2 separate regions of the Homo sapiens genome follow, and region 2 is linked to region 1. Evidence: fine-mapped expression QTL. Tissue or cell type: hippocampus. Region 1 holds a variant in brackets; the other region holds the start of a gene. All regions are shown on one strand. Distances are between the middles of the regions.

What was found. PIP is the estimated chance that this variant, and not a neighbour inherited with it, causes the effect.
Region 2: it holds the start of LBHD2, and the variant in region 1 is fine-mapped to the expression of LBHD2 in hippocampus (GTEx, PIP 0.96).

Annotation. Positions count from the first base shown.
Region 1 is chr14:103,212,611-103,220,713 of GRCh38, forward strand. No RefSeq gene overlaps it. Among named protein-coding and RNA genes, the nearest start is that of LINC00605, 28 kb to the left of the region's middle. The variant C/T (reference allele first, on the strand shown) is at 4,209.
Region 2 is chr14:103,079,478-103,087,580 of GRCh38, forward strand. LBHD2 (LBH domain containing 2) reads left to right here and starts at 4,733. Exons shown (of 4, transcript NM_001330236.2): 1 at 4,733-4,870; 2 at 6,499-6,604. The coding sequence starts at 6,536.

The DNA.
Region 1 (8,103 bases):
GTTGATTTTCTTATGTCGAACCATTCTTGCATTTCAGGAATAATCCCACTTGGTCATGATGTATGATCCTTTGAATGGGCCGTTGAATTGTTTGCTAGTATTTGATTTTTAGATTTTTCTTCTTTCATTCCATGTTTTCTTTGCCCTCAGCCAGGCCCTGGTTGGTTGGGGTTCTTCATCTAGTAGTATGACCCAAATGTTCATTCATGAAAGATCTGAACTTTCAGTAGGGTTCTGCCATTTTTTTGTTGGCGTTGTTTGTGATAACCTTTTACTGTTGGAATGGGAGTACCAGGAGGTGCCTCAAACAACGTACTGAGTCACTAAGTATAATAGTGAAACAAACCAATTCCCCTCTATCACCCCTTAACTCCCAAACTCCTATATTCTGGCTGTGGGAAAAACACCACCATATATTAATCACTGAATAAAGATTATATCAAAACCGTAAGATGGGGGCCTATCCATTCAGGGTGGTATCTCCCAACTGGTGCTAAGATAAGTCTTTGGTAGCCCATCCAACCATTCTATCAGGCCAGCTGCTCTTGGGTGATTGAACAAAAAGCAGGATCATTGAATTCCATGGCCATGAGCCTAATGCTTCACCTCTTTTGCAATGAAATCAATTCCTTGATCAAAGAAATGTTTTATGGGATATGATGAAGGTCCACAGGGCATTCTATAATTCTGTGGATGGTGGTGCTGGCAAAAGCATTACACGTAGAGACAGCAAATCTATATCCAGAATAAATTCCAGTGAGGACAAATTGCTTTTCCTTCCGTGATGGAAGGGATCTAATGTAATCAAGTTTCCACCAAGTGGCTAATTATTCTCCCAGGAAATGATGCCATATATCAGGGTCTCTGTTATTGGTTAAATATTCAACAGTGAAGATAACCAGGTCGGACTTGTGAGGCAAAGTCCATGCTGAGGCCATGCACAGCCTCTTCCCTGCCTCCTTGGTCACTCTGTACACAGGCCCATTGAGCAACCATTCTGATGGCTGGGGAAAGAGGCTGACTGCAATGCACAGAAAAGACTGTCTTGCCCACCTGATTATTGACAGCCCCCTCTAGAAGATGCTTTTGGATGAGCATTCACATGTGACAAGGTACCCTCAAAGTCTGCCTATCCAGAGAGGTCCGTCCTTTCCCAGACCACCTCAATACCAATCTCCCAACCTGATTTCTTCCAAGTCTCTGATGATCTAGCCAAACCATTAGCCTCTATACTAGTCCATAAGCCAGTATAGAGCCATACTTCTGGCCATCTTCCAGTCCAGGCAAAGTATAACAAACAAATGCGGCACATGAAGTAATGACATGACAACTGAGAGGACTCTCCTTTACCACTGTTCTTTTTTTTTTTTTTTTTTTTTTTGAGACAGAGTCTCGCTCTGTTGCCCAGGCTGGAGTACAGTGGTGCAGTCTCAGCTCACTGCAACCTCTGCCTCCCGGGTTCAAGTGATTCTCCTGCCTCAGCCTCCCGAGTAGTTGGGACTATAGGCACATGCCACTATGCCTAGCTAATTTTTGTATTTTTAGTAGAGACGGGGTTTCACCTTGTTGGCCAGGCTGGTTTCGAACTCCTGACCTCAGGTGATCTGCCTGCCTCGGCCTCACAAAGTGCTGGGATTACAGGCATGCGCCACTGCACCTGGCCACCACTCTTCTTTAGGGCCACCCTGAGTGGGACTGGAGTGCTGTAGCCACCTACTTCTGGACCATCTCTAAGCCAGGATGAGATTTTCCCCCCTCAATCAACTGGTCATAAAGACCTCCCTGTGTGGACATCAGTTTGGGTTGTAGGAGAGGAGACAGTGCAGAGTGGGGAGGGGGAGACGCTGTCTATCAGTGCATTTTGACAACTGCATTCGCTACATGGTCTACCGTCAAAGCCGCTGAAGACAAGAGTTTGGTCACATGTTTTCCTGTGGCAGTGCAGGGCTCACCAGCCTCCCAGCCTGCAGAGATAGCTTCTTGCTGCCGCTGACATCTGGGAGCTGGCCTGGCATCTACATTTAGGCCACGGTGTTCTCCTGCTGAACATAAATAATTTCACAGAACGTCAACATCAGACATGGCCACTCTGTGACTATGACGGATGAAGATAAAATAAGAGCATTCTGCAGTCATGTCGAAACATAGATGGAAATACCAACACTGTCCAAACCACGTCAAATCATCGAACCTTGGCCAACAGGAGTGATGACTGCTTCTTTACCAATGACAACTTCAGCTTCTCTCTAGTCTGCCTTCCTTCCAGATAAGATTTATTATGATAGGCCGGGTGCAGTGGCTCACACTTGTAATCCCAGCACTTTGGGAGGCCGAGACGGGCAGATCGTCTGAGGTCAGGAGTTTGAGACCAGCCTGGCCAATGTGGTGATACCCCGCCATTTCTACTAAAAATACAAAAATTAGCCAGATGTGGTGGTGCATGCCTGTAATCCCAGCTACTCAGGAGGCTGAGGCAGGAGAATCTCTTGAACCCAGGGGGCAGAGGTTGCAGTGAGCTGAGATCACACCATTGCACTCCAGCCTGGGCGACAAGAGTGAAACTCCGTCTCAAAAAAATAAAAATAAAAAAAGATATATTATGATAGTCAATCATGTAACCTCCTGCTTCCTAAGCATCTAATCCAGTGCAATCCCTGTTTCCTCGAGCTTCCTTCACTTCATGCAAGCCCAAAGCGAAGCCCTTTATTTTTTTAATTTTTGTGGGTACATAGTAGGTGTATGTATTTATGGGGCATATGGGATCTTTTGATACGGGCATACACTGTATAATAATATCAGGTAAGTAGGGTGCCCGTCACCTCAGCATTTATCCTTTGTTTGTGGGCCCCCCAAGGTGCCTGCGGTTCCCTCATGTTGTTGCAAATGACAGGATCTCATTCTTTTCTGTGCCTGAATCGTGCTCCATTGTGTACATGCACCACATTTTCTTGATCCATTCATCTGCTGATGGACGCTTAGGTTGCCTCCAAATCTTGGCTATTGTGAACAGTGCTGCAGTAAACGTGGGCGTGCAGACATCTCTTTGATACACTGACTCCTTGCTTTTGGGTATATACCCAGCCGTGGGACTGCTGTATCATATGGTAGCTCCATTTTTAGTTTTTTGGGGAACCTCCGAACTGTTCTCCATAGTGGCTGTACTAATTTACGTTCCCACCCACGGTGTACGAGGATTCCCTTTTCTCCCCATCCTCGCCAGCATTCGTTATTGCCTGTCTTTTGAATAGAAGCCATTTTAACTGGGGTGAGATGATATCTCACTGTCATTTTGACCAAATCTAAGCCCTTTCTAACACCTTTTTACTGAGACACCCTGTGGCTCCCTGTGGTGGGTGCTCTCCCTCCCTGTGATGAGCGGTGAATTGATCTTGTTCAACCTGGAGGTCTGTAGCTGCAGGTGCTGGCCCGGCCCCAGCCTGCTGCCTGGTGCTGAGGCCGCTTCTTTCTGGAAGCCAATGCTGTGGCAGTCGGGGTGCAGGAGGCAGAACCCCTGCAGGGAATTTAAGCAGGGCCGATTTACCAGATGTAACCGGGACTTACAAAGCTACCGGAAGGGTTGGAGGAGTCGGTTCTGGGCCTAGCCTCTGAGCATAACTTCCAGAATCAATTCGTTAAGCCGGTCCCAACTCCAGAGGGGACTGTAGGCAATGTGGGGGGACTGCATGCAAAGGATACAGACATATATATACACACATATGTACACTCACACATCTATGGGGTAAAGTGGCAGCCATGACAGTCCCTTCACCTGACTTGTCTAGAAATGCTCAGCTTCTGAGGCAGTGACCCTAGAGGGACAGAGTGCATCTGGGAGAAATGTGGAAGGGTCAGCTGAGTCCAGTGGGCTCACATGGAGAAAGATCAGGATCTGTGACTTCAGGGAAACGGGACGGGGTTCGGGGGCTAGGGGAGGTGGGCCTGGGTCCCGTGAGCACAGGTGGGTCCAGGGGTGGGTGTGGGAGGAGGCGGGCTGTGGAGGAATAGCTCACGCAGGGAGTTGGTGCATTTTCCCCAGTCGAGGTCTGACATACTGAGAGGCCGAGACCCAGGCCAGCAAGGGAGCCCGGGACACTGCCGGTCCCATGGGAATCCCCAGCCTTTTCCCTGACAGCCCAATGCCCTGTCAGAGAACAGCAGGGCAGGGGACAGCTTTGGGACAAAGATTCACTATTGAGGCGTGGATGTGT[C/T]TCCACCCCCCACCCCCTCCCCTCTCCGACAGCAGCAGGCCTGGAGCCTCCAGGGCCACTTGGGAAGGCAGGACTACAGGGAGAGGTGAGAAAATCAGCTTTTTTCCCCTCACACACCCCTTCTGGCACTGAAGAAGGTCGTCACTGGAGGTGTAAGGTGACACCACCATGCAGGAGAGGGGAGGCCTTCACCCAGGTTGCAGTGCAAAGGTGCAATCACAGCTCGCTGAAGCCTCAAGCTCCTGGGCTCAGGCGGTCCTCCCACCTCAGCCTCCTGAGTAGATGGGACTACAGGTGCTCACTACCGTGCCTGGGTAATTTTTTTTTTTTTTTTTAGTTTTTGTAAAGGTGGGAGTCTTGCTGTCTTAGCCAAGCTGGTCTCGAACTCCTGGCCTCAAGTGATTCTCCAGCCTCAGCCTCCCAAAATGCTGGGATTATAGGTGTGAGCCACTGCGACTGGCCTGCGCTGCACTTTTGAAAGCTCCAAAGGCTTACAGGTGTAAACGTTGAGGTTTGTGGTAGACAGTCTGCAGAAATGACCACCAGCTATTCCCCCTGCACACAAAAGCTGCAGCTCCCATAAGGAGGTGAGTCTATTTCCCGTCCCTTAGAATCGGACCTGGCTGTTGACTTCCTTTGAATAATAGAATGCGATATTGTGTCAGCTCCAAGCCAAACCTTTAAAAGGACTGACAGTCTCCTCTTTTGTCCTCTTGCAACTCATCCACCACATAAATAAGCTCAAAGCTAGACTCCTGGATGACAAGAGAGGATGCAAAGAGAAAGAGAGAGTTTCCTAGCCCCAAGCTAATCCAGCCATCCCTGATGAGGCAGCAGCTGTGTGAGTGAACGCATGGATATTCCATCCCCAGCTGGGCTCCTAGCTGAATGTAGGGCATGTGTGGCCTAAGCCAAAACCATGTAAACCAGAAGAACCATCCAGCTAAGCCCAGCCAACACTCAGATTCATAAGAAATAATAAATCTTTTAAATTTAAGACTGCTAAGCCTTGGGTTCATTATATAGCAACAAATAATCAATACAGAGTCCACAGCTCACCAAGATTAGGAATCCAGGTAAAACATCTGCTGCTGTGGGCTGGGATCTCAAAAGTTGCATCCTGGAAGTGAAGGTAAACTAAGTAAATCAGCCTTCAGAGAGACTGAAACCCACTTTTAGGGAGATTTTTCAGGAAAATCTCAAGCCCTGAAATTAGATTAAGGTGCTCTTTTATTGTTAGTGCTTCCAGGCATCTGGATGAAACCATTGAAATTCTTCTGGAGGAAGAGAATAACCCAAGTTTCAAGTTATTTCTACAGAGGATTTATCTAGTATATAATAAAAGATAAACAGGTCCATACTGAATAAGATTTAAAAAAAAAAAAAATCCAAGCAACAACAAAACCAAACAGATAACAACAGACCCATAGAGACCCAAGATACTGGTTTAATAAGACACAACAGCTTTAAAACTGCTATGCTTAATTGATAAATGAACTGTAGATTAAACACAGGTGAAGAGAAATATCAATGAACTGAGAGATATAAGATACATTATTCAGAACAGACCAAAAAAGTAATAAATAGAGAAGAGGGAGAAGAGACAAAGGTAGGGGAGTCTCACATAGGTGGAATTTGAGGCCCCCAGAAGGACAGAAACTGGACCAGAGCAAAACATTTGAAAAGCAAATGGCTGCAAATTTTTAAAAATGAATGTGGCCGGGCACACTGGCTCACGCTTATAATCCCAGCACTTTGGGAGGCTGAGGTGGGTGGATCACTTGAGGTCGGGAGTTCAAGACCAGCCTTGCCAACCTGGTGAATCCCCACCTCTACTAAAAATACAAAAATTAGCCAGGTATGGTGGCGCGTGCCTGTAATCCCAGCTACTCGGGAGGCTGAAGCAGGAGAATCACTTGAACCCGGGAGCTGGAGGCTACAGTGAGCCGAGATGGCACCACTGCACTCCAGCCTAGGTGACAGGGCCAGACTCTAATAAATAAATAAATAAAAAATAAGGGCCAAATAAAGACACTTGCAGCACAAAGGAGTTTGTCACTAACATTTACACTAAAGCAAATTGTAAAGGAGGTGTTTTAAGCAAAAGGAATCAGGAACTGACATGGATTTCTGTCTGTCTTGCTGGGGCTGCAGCTGCTCCTGAATTTCCCTTCTTCATTACCTGCCCCCGTGGACATTCCACTCCAGCATCAGAGACGGAGACTCTTGCTTGAGTTCCACTTAGTAGACACGACCCGGACAAAGCAGTTGCAGTGTCTCAGGGAGCCCACTGGACGCAGCTGACCCTTCCACATTTCTCCCAGATGCAGTCTCTGTCCCTCTAGGGTCACTGCCTCAGGAGCTGAGCATTTCTAGACAAGTCAGGTGAAGAGACAGTCATGGCTGCCACTTTACACCATAGATGCGTGAGTGTACATATGTGTGTATATATATGTCCGTATCCTCAACGAGGGCCAAAGTATCCAGTTTTTTTCTTTTTTTTTTTTTTTGAGACAGGGACCTTGCTTTCTCACCCAGGCTAGAGTGCAGTGGCACAATTATGGCTCACAAGAGCCCCAACCTCCTGGGCTTAAGCGATCCTCCTGTCTCAGCCTCCCTAGTAACTGGGACTACAGGTGTGCACCAGCAGGAGCTGATTGTGTGTGTGTGTGTGTGTGTGTGTGTGTGTGTGTGTGTGTGTGTGTGTGTAGAGGTAGGGTCTCACTATGTTCTCCAGGCTGGTCTCAAACTCCTGGGTTCAAACAATCCTCCCTCCTTGGCTTCCCCAAGTGCTGGGATTACAGGCCTGAGCCACTTCACCCAACTACAGTATCCAGTGTCTAAGTTTGTTCTTAAATGAGCTATGTGCTGGAGGGAAAAAGAGGAGCTTTGTCTACTCTAAACCAGATCGTAGAGGTCTTTTGTTTGTCGCCCTTGGGGTTTTTCACCAAGATGCCCTGGGCCTTTGGGATGAGCCGGATGGGCCTTTCCCGGACAGGCGGAGGAAGAAAGTTCAAGGTGAGCAGTGGGAGAAACTGCAGGCCCCCTGCTCCCAGGGGAAGGGGAGGTGGCCTTCAGGGGAGAGTCCATATGGGCGCCCAGAAACTGGAAACTGCGTCCCTGAAGGCTGCAAGCCCTCTGGACAGACAGGGTCACCCCCGAGTGAAGAGGGGCTTTGAAGACACATGGAAAAGGTGGTGAGTGGGGACTGAGTTGAAACCCAGGCCCTAAGTGGAAGAGCCTGCAGTTCCTAGGGTGCCTTCCTTCTTCCAGTCAATTCATCAATCAATCCACACCAAGTCAGTGCCTACCCCAGGGCAGACACTTGCGAGGCCCGAGGTCAGGAGGCCACAGGAGCCCCTTCCCCAACCTGAAGCCCTGGAGATGGCCTGGCTGGAGGGGACGACGGCCCGCAGCGGGGACCCGACTCACTTCTTCGTCCCCACCTGCCCTGGGGTCCGAAGGGAGCCGCGTGGGAAGCGGGGACGGGGAGCGTGTGGAGGGACCCCCGCGCTCCCGGGCCGACCCTCTGCGGCCTCTGCTCTGCGCAGTCCGTCCTCTTCTCCCGACCTGGCGTGCGTCTCCTGTTCCCCGGCCCCCCATCCCATGGGACCGTCCTTCCTAACGGCACTTCACCCCGCCCGGCCCACGAGGTGGTCCCGGGCCGGTGACAAGATCTGGACGTGGCGACTCCGGGAAGGGGCGACCGGGCGCGGAGAGCCCCTGGGACCCAGGCCTCAGGGACGCATCGGGGTCGGAGCTGGGCCCGGGGGCGGGGCTGGGGTGGGGAGGCTGAGGTTCCTTCGCCCCTTCCCTCCCCTCGCCCCCCGCAGCCTCGCGGCGCGTTTCCTGCCCCGCCCGCCAGGAGGGAGTGGCCCCCGCCAAGTCCCGCGCG
Region 2 (8,103 bases), 130 kb before region 1:
GTCTGGGTCTTCAGAGGGTGCGGTTGCAGCCACAGTGATAAGGGTGTGAGGTGTCTGACCTACTCTGGCATTGGTGTGTGACACTAGGCCAGGCCCCTGTCCTTCTGGTCTGTGCTCTTGCCTGGAGCAGTGTACAGATGTGGGGAGCCCCTTCTCAGAATGTAGATGACTGGGGTTCTTGTCTGCCTCAAACCCTCCCAGAGCTCCTTGCTGCCCCCACATCAGGGATTGACCCCTCTGCTGGGCATTCTCAGCTTTGCACAATCTCTGCTACCTTCTTTTTCCAGTCTCACCTCCCGCTATGCCCACATCATCAGATCTCCTGAGCTGCAGCCACAGTGCCCAGGTCAGGCCTCCACCTACCCTGCTGTGATGCCCCCTTGCCCATCTTCCTCCTGGAGAACTTGTGCAAAGAGCTCTATCCATCCCACATCCAGGAGAACCCAATTCGCATTTTCACAAAGACACTTCTCTGCCTGACCTGGTTCTCCGTTTTGGACCATTGGATCGTGAATTTGGATTGGGTCTTATTTCTCTCAATGATCCCAGAATCCAGCATTGACATGGAGTCAATAATGCTTAATATTAATATTTATTAATACATGAATGTATTGTTTATGAATGAATGGGCAAAAGAATGGTGAGAAGATGGATGGATGAATGATGGGGATGGGTGGCGGTGAGATGAAGTGAGGACAGTGGACTGATGTTTATGTATGTGGATAATATAAGAATATAACTTAAGGGTAATAGATGAACACATGGACGAGTTAATTACTAGGTGGCTGGCTGATTGGTGGGGGATGAATAACTGTCTGTGTGAGTGATAGTGGATGAACGATGGACATAATGATGGAATGAGTATGTGGTGGGTAGAAGAATGTATGGCTAATGATTGGATGGGCACTGGAAGCATGGTAGAGGGTGATCCTAGATGGTGGATGGATATAATATGATGGATGGTAGATGCATCTATGTAGTTGGTGATTGATTAAGTGATGAAGAATAGATAAATACACAGTAGATTGATAGATGGAAAATGGACGGACGTGGATGCTGAATTGTTGGATCGATGGATACCACATGAATCCATACATAGTGGATATAAACTGCAGGCAATAAGTATTAATAGTAGATGGTGGATGCTTAGTGGGTAGATACATCATGGAAGTGTGGATGGATGGTGGATAAATAGTAGTGGATGATTGTGATGGATCTATCCACAGAGAATGGATGGGCAGATGGGACAGAAATACCAATGAGTATATGACTGATGGATGGATCATGAGTGGTGGACAAGTAAATGGTGGCTGCCTGGTGCATGAATGGGGACTGGATGGCAAATAAATGAATGATTGCTAGCTGGATGAATAATGGGTTGTGTGCTGTGGAGGTACAAATGGAAGGTGGATGTGGATAGATAACAACTGGATGGAATCTGGATGACTAATGATGAACAGGTGCTGAGCGGATGGATGAAGGTTTAAACAGTAGGTGGCTACAACTTGGAAAAGTGATGCATGAAAGATGAATGGTGGGTGTGTAGATGGAGAGGTGGTAAATGGATGCTTTAATGTACAGATGGAGGAAGATGGATACATAGCAAGTGGGTAGAGTGGATGATGAATGAAGATGGATACCGAATGGAGAAAGAATAACGAGTGTGGGATGGGCATGAATAGTGACTGGATGGATGGTGAGTGGATTGTAATGGTCGATGGATAATGGCAAATAAATGCTCACTGCTGTCTCTCTACTCTGTCCTCAGCACCTAAAACAATGTTTGGCACATAGAAGGCAGTCAATATTTTTTTCTAGAATGGATGAATATGAATGGATGCTAGATGGTACTTGGATGGATTTTGGATGAATAGTGAATTTTGGCTGGATGATGGGTGGATAGATAGAGGATGTTGTGAGATGGATAGTGAATGAATGGATACGTGGTGGATATGGATAAGAGATGGTGATGGTAGGCTGGGTGTGGTGGCTCACGCCTGTAATCCCAGCACTTTGGGAAGCCATGGCGGGTGGATCACCTGAGGTCAGGAGATCGAGACCAGCCTGGCCAACATAGAGAAACCCCGTCTCTACTAAAAATACAAAAATTAGCTGGGTGTGGTGGGCACCTATAATCTCAGCTACTTGGGAGGCTGAGGTAGGAGAATTGCTTGAATCCAGAGGCAGAGGTTGCAGTGAGCCGAGACTGCGCCATTGCCCTCCAGACTGGGTGACAGAGAGAGACTCTGCCTCAAACGAACGAACAAACAAACAAACAAATAAACACCAAAAAAGAGATGGTGATGGTAGATGGTTGGTGGATGGATGGAGGAATACAGTTAATAGAAATATGAATGGATGGCAAATGGTGAATGACTGGTGGGTGAATTGTAGATGGGTGACTTGTTGCTGATTGGATGGAGGTTAAGGGATAAATCAGGACAAATGAATAGTAGAGTGATGATTCACAATTAGATATGTGGATGGAGATGTGAATGGTAGATGGATGTGTTAAATATCTGATGGAAAGCTGTTACATAGTGAGTGATGGATGGATAGGTGGTGGATGGATCGATGGTGAATGAATGTTGGATCAATGGGTATTTAGTGGTGTATTGATGCTTGGTAAATGGTGGGTGCTGGTGGTGAATGGATGGGTGCATGATGGATGGGTGGTGGTTGCATATGGGATGGTGACTGGAGATGGATGGTTAATGGACATTGGATACTGGACGGTGGTTGAATGGTGGATTGTGAATGGATGGCTGGTGGTTGCATGGGGGAAGGTAGATGGTGGATTGTGGATGAGATGGATGTTGGGTTATTGATGGTAGATGGTGGACTGTGGATGGGATGGATGTTGGGGTATTGATGGTAGATGGTGGATGGTGGACGGGATGGATGTTGGGTTATTGAAGGTAGATGGTGGACTGTGGATGGGACGGATGTTGGGTTATTGAAGGTAGACGGTGGACTGTGGATGGGATGGATGTTGGGTTATTGAACGTAGATGGTGGGCCGGGCGCGGTGGCTCACACCTGTAACCCCAGCACTTTGGGAGGCCGAGGCAGGTGGATCACGAGGTCAGGAGTTCAAGACCAGCCTAGCCAAGATGGTGAAACCCCATCTCTACTAAAAATACAAAAATCAGCCAGGCGTGATGGTGGGTGCTTGTAATCCCAGCTACTCAGGAGGCTGTGGCAGATAATTGCTTGAACCCGTGAGGCGGAGGTTGCAGTGAGCCGAGATCTTCCCACTGCACTCCAGCCTGGGGAACAGAGCGAGACTCCATCTCAAAACAAACAAACAAACAAACAAACAAACAAACAAACAAACGGACGTAGATGGTGGACTGTGGACAGGATGGATGTTGGGTTATTGAAGGCAGATGGTGGACTGTGGATGGGATGGATGTTGGGTTATTGAAGGCAGATGGTGGACTGTGGATGGGATGGATGTTGGATTATTGAAGGTAGGTAGTGGACTGTGGACAGGATGGATGTTGGGTTATTGAAGGTAGATGGTGGATTGTGGACGGGATGGATGTTGGGTTATTGAAGGTAGATGGTGGATTGTGGACGGGATGGATGTTGGGTTATTGAAGGTAGATGGTGGATTGTGGACGGGATGGATGTTGGGTTATTGAAGGTAGATGGTGAATTGTGGACGGGATGGATGTTGGGTTATTGATGGTAGTGGTGGATTGTGGATGAGGTGGATGTTGGGTTATTGATGGTGGATGATGGATGGCAGATGGTGGGTCTCAGATGGTGGCGGGATGGCAAAAGATAGATGAATAGCTGTGAATGGTAGACGGACCGTGGCTGGACTGTGGGTATTGAATGGAAGTGGGATGTTAGATAACTGACGGTGGAGGCTTCCTGGTTGCAGGGTAGGAATTACATGGACCAGAGATTATGCACCTTGGCTCAGGTGTCAGGTCTGTGCACTGGGCTGAATGAGACAGCTTGTCCCAGGGCTGTTTTGCTCCTTTTTGGGAATGGAACTGGAAAGATGAGAGGGGGGCTGAGGGGTGACCCCCTCCCCCCCCCCCCCCCTGCTTCCTGCAGCGCATCCCAGTTTGGGTTTTTAGGTTTTTTTTTTTTTTTTTTTTTGAGACAGAATCTCAGTCTGTCACCCAGGATGGAGTGCAGTGGCACGATCCCGGCTAAGTGCAACGTCTGCCTCCTGGGTTCAAGAGATTCTCCTGCCTCAGCCTCCCAAGTAGCTGGGACTACAGGCACCTGCCACCGCGCCTGGCTAATTTTTTTTTTTTTTTGTATTTTTAGTAGAGACGGGGTTTCACCATATTGGCCAGGCTAATCTCGAACTCCTGACCTCAGGTGATCTGCCCGCCTCGGCCTCCCAAAGTGCTGGGATTACAGGCGTGAGCTACTGCGCCCGGCAGTTTGGGTTTTTTTTTTTTTTTTGGTCCTTTTTACTCCTGTCTTTATTCCCCAATAGGAAGGAGTCCTCTTTCCATGTATCTGGCCCCACCGAATTCTGCACCTCAAATTTCTGGACGCCAATCTTGAGGCTCAGTCTCAAGTGGCCAGGGGCAGGCCCTGGGGGAGGGGTCGGCTCAAGGGAAGATGAGGCCGGGCCCTTGCTGGGGGCTGGAGCTGGGAGGGCGCGGGCGCTGAGGACCGGCGGCCAGCCCCGCGGTGGGCGTGAGTGCGAGGGAGGCCGGGAGAGCGCGTGTGGGCGGGGAGCGCGAGAAGGAGAGCGAGCCGGGAGAGCGCGGAGCCAGCGGAGCGCGGAGGCCCCAGCGCCAGCACCCGCGCGGGCGGTGAGCGTGAGTGTGGCGCAGGGTCGCCCCTCCCCAGCCTGGCCCCGGCAGTGCGGGCCCCGGGAGCGCCCTGACGGCTAGGTGCGGGGTGGTTGGGAGCGGGAGGAGCATGGGGGGGGATTTGGGAGTTTTGAGTCGAGCTCCTTGGGGAACGGGACGGCGTGGGTTCGCGGGGTCAGCCCGGCTGTGGAACGCCATGCCTCCGCGCGCTTGTGTCCCCGGGGCTGTGCCCAGCAAGACCTGGGATCCCGCGGCGCTGGGGGTGGTGGGTGCCCTCGATGTGTGGTGCCCCGGCTGGCACTGGACCCTGGCGCCGGGCAGGGCAAGGCAGCCCTTGGGCACTTGTTCCCTGCTTGCCTGCCCCCGCCTGGCTCAAGCTGACAGCTCTATCATCTGCCTCTGTCATCCCTCTCTCTCTGGGCCAAGTGTCATCTGTGGGTCTGTTTCTGTCTCTCTCTCTCTCTCTCTTCTCCTCTGTCTCCAGCTCAGTCACCTCTCGCCTGGTCTCTGTGGCAGTATTTTTCTTGCCTCTCCCTCTGCCTCCTTCCCAAGGCTGGCTGGGTCTCTGTCCTGGCTGCCCTGGACTCTAACCTGAGTTCTGGGGTCCTGGGATGGGATCCAGAAGAGGCTTGATGGAGGGCCGGACCTGGGAGCAGTGGGGCACTGAGACATCCCTGGGCTTTGGGGTTGGGCAGAGGAGCCAGAGGTTGTGGCTTCACTGCCCGCTGCCCCGAGAGGCCTCCTGCAGTGTGTGCCCCTCCTAGCCCTCCCTGGGCCTCAGTGGGACCCCAGCTGACCTGAGTGGGGTGTTTGGTGAAAGAAACCTCATTTCTCAGAATAGCAGCCCTCTGCTTTGCTGGCGGCCACAGGACCACCCTCACCCACCCCAGCAGGACGTCACAGGCATTCCATCCTGCTGGTCTCTGCTCTCCCACTGCCTTGTCCCCTTCCTGCAGGGCTGCCCCCGCCCGTGGCCCCCTACTGCCTGCATGCCAGCCACTGCCACACCCCACCCCCATTTCTACCTCTGACCAGGGCGTAGCCCCAAGAGCCCACACGGCCCGAGCGCAGGTGAAGGGTCTGGCTGGTGCCAACTCCTGCCAGGGGCTCTCTTCCCAGAGCCCTTGCTGCCAGGGCTCCAGTGGGGCTCCCCCTGCTGTGGCCAGCCTGAGTGGGTGCGGCCAAGTGCAGGGGCAGGACTTCATTTCCCCCTGGGCTGTGGGTGCTGAGGGCCTGGCCCGGGGTGTGCAGGGTGCATGCTCTCGAGGAGGAAATGGGCACCTTGGCCTCTGGCTGACTTGAACCCAGTCCCTACTACTCCCAGCCTCCCGTCTCAGGAACGTTTAGGTCCCTAGGACACTCCGTGTCCTTCCTGCACTATTCCTGTCTCAGAATGTGCTTCTGTCCTCCCAGCTGGCCTAGCTACCTCCTGCTCACCTCTCAGGCCTCAGATCAGCAGACTTCTTCCAGGAAGCCTTCCCAGGTCTCCCCTCCTGCCTGTGCCCTCTTGCAGGCACACTGTGCGGCCAGGGTCCAGTGCCCCCTCTGGCGGCGGGCTCAGGCAGGGAGCAGTGCAATATAGGTCCAGCTGGAGCCATGGGCACTGGGCCTGGGCTGGGGTGGAGTGGGGTGGGCTTAGCACCTGAAGCCTTCGGGGGAGTGTGGATCCAGCATCAGGCCAACAGCAGACACCCCATTTCTGCTCCCAGTCCTCGTGCAGCTTAGTGGCGCAGTGGCGGCAGCAGCATGAGCACCCCCCGGCCTGCTCCACCACAGCCAGGCGCTGCTGAGGGGGCTGGAGGCCCAGAAGGGAAGGTATGCGCTCGGGACCCTGGGGGGGTCGGGAGGGAGCAAGCCTCAAACTCTGTCCCATGACTTGGGGCATGCCTTGCCTTGCTGCTGGCCTCAGTTTACCCATCTGGGTGGGGGAGATCATTGCTTATTTATTTATTTATTTATTTTTGACACAGAGTCTTGCTCTGTTGCCCAGGCTGGAGTGTAATGGCGTGATCTTGGCTCACTGCAGCCTCCGCCTCCGGGGTTCAAGCAATTCTCCTGCCTCAGCCTCTGGAGTAGCTGGGATTACAGGTGCCCACCACTATGCCCAGTTAATTTTTGTATTTTTAGTAGACTCGGGTTTCACCATGTTGGCCAGGCTGGTTTCCAACTCCTGACCTCAGGTGATCCACCTGCCTTGGCCTCCCAAAGTGCTGGGATTACAGGCGTGAGCCACTGTGCCCGGCTTGTTGCTCTTTTATAAAGGTATAATGGATAAAAAAAATTGAAGGCCAGCATTCCTGGCTTACTTAGCACTCCTTCCTGACCTGAGGACCCCAGGGATTGTCCCCAAGGCACGCTTTGCTCTCTGCTGAGTGAGGAAATGCCAGGGTTCCCTGCCCCTAGTGTCACCTTTTGGCAGGGGATGGGGAGGTGCTGATGAAACTAAAAAAAAAAAAACAAGCTCCCTACACAGGGTCGCAGCCTTAGTATTCTGAGTGCTAGAGCCCAGCTAGAGCCCAGCCATTCTCCTTGTTGGGGAGCAGTGGGGCTAGAGAGGGGGACCAGCCTGGAGTCATATAGGGACCAGTCTGGAACTTGGGGTTGCAGACACAGCCTCCCAGGCAGGGTGGACAGAGGTGAGCACCAGGACTCCGAGCTGCAAACGCTGCTGGCCTGGACCTCGTTCACCCCAGTGGGCAGACTTGGAGAGGAGCACCCTTGGTTGGGGGCAGGAAGGAGAATGGCACGTGGGGAGGGAGAGCAGGCTGGGGGATGAGCCCCCCTGGCTGGCAATGCCAGCATGAGGGTGGCCCCTGGGAGGATCCAGCCTTTGGGGTAGGGATGGGGTCCCTGCTCTGCTGTCCTCTGACAGCTCCTTCATTCCACAGACATCCCAGTCCAGTGACACCTGTTCTCACACTTGAGGGTCACATATGGTCCGTGGTTAAAAGAGAGTCTGGGCTGGAGCTCAGGAATGTGCACTGTTCAGGGATCTTGCTGCAGTGGCCGAGGGCCATTCAGCTAAGTCCCCCCTGCTGCGTGGCTGTCCTTCCTCGAGGCCCTTGTGCTCTTTTGGGAAGGTGGACCCAGCAGCTTCCCTTCTAGGTGGAGAAATGGGAGACAGGGAGCTCCAGGCAGGGCCATCTGCCCGAGCACAGGCGTGGGGGTGGGACAGGGCAGGCAAGTCAGGGCCACCGGGGCGCTGAGGGACAGAGTTCTGCACGTAGCACTGCAGCCTCAAAGACCTTGAACGGGAGGTGGAGATGCTGAGGGCACCGGGAAGGCCTGGGGACGCAGCCCCCGCAGGCTCCTGT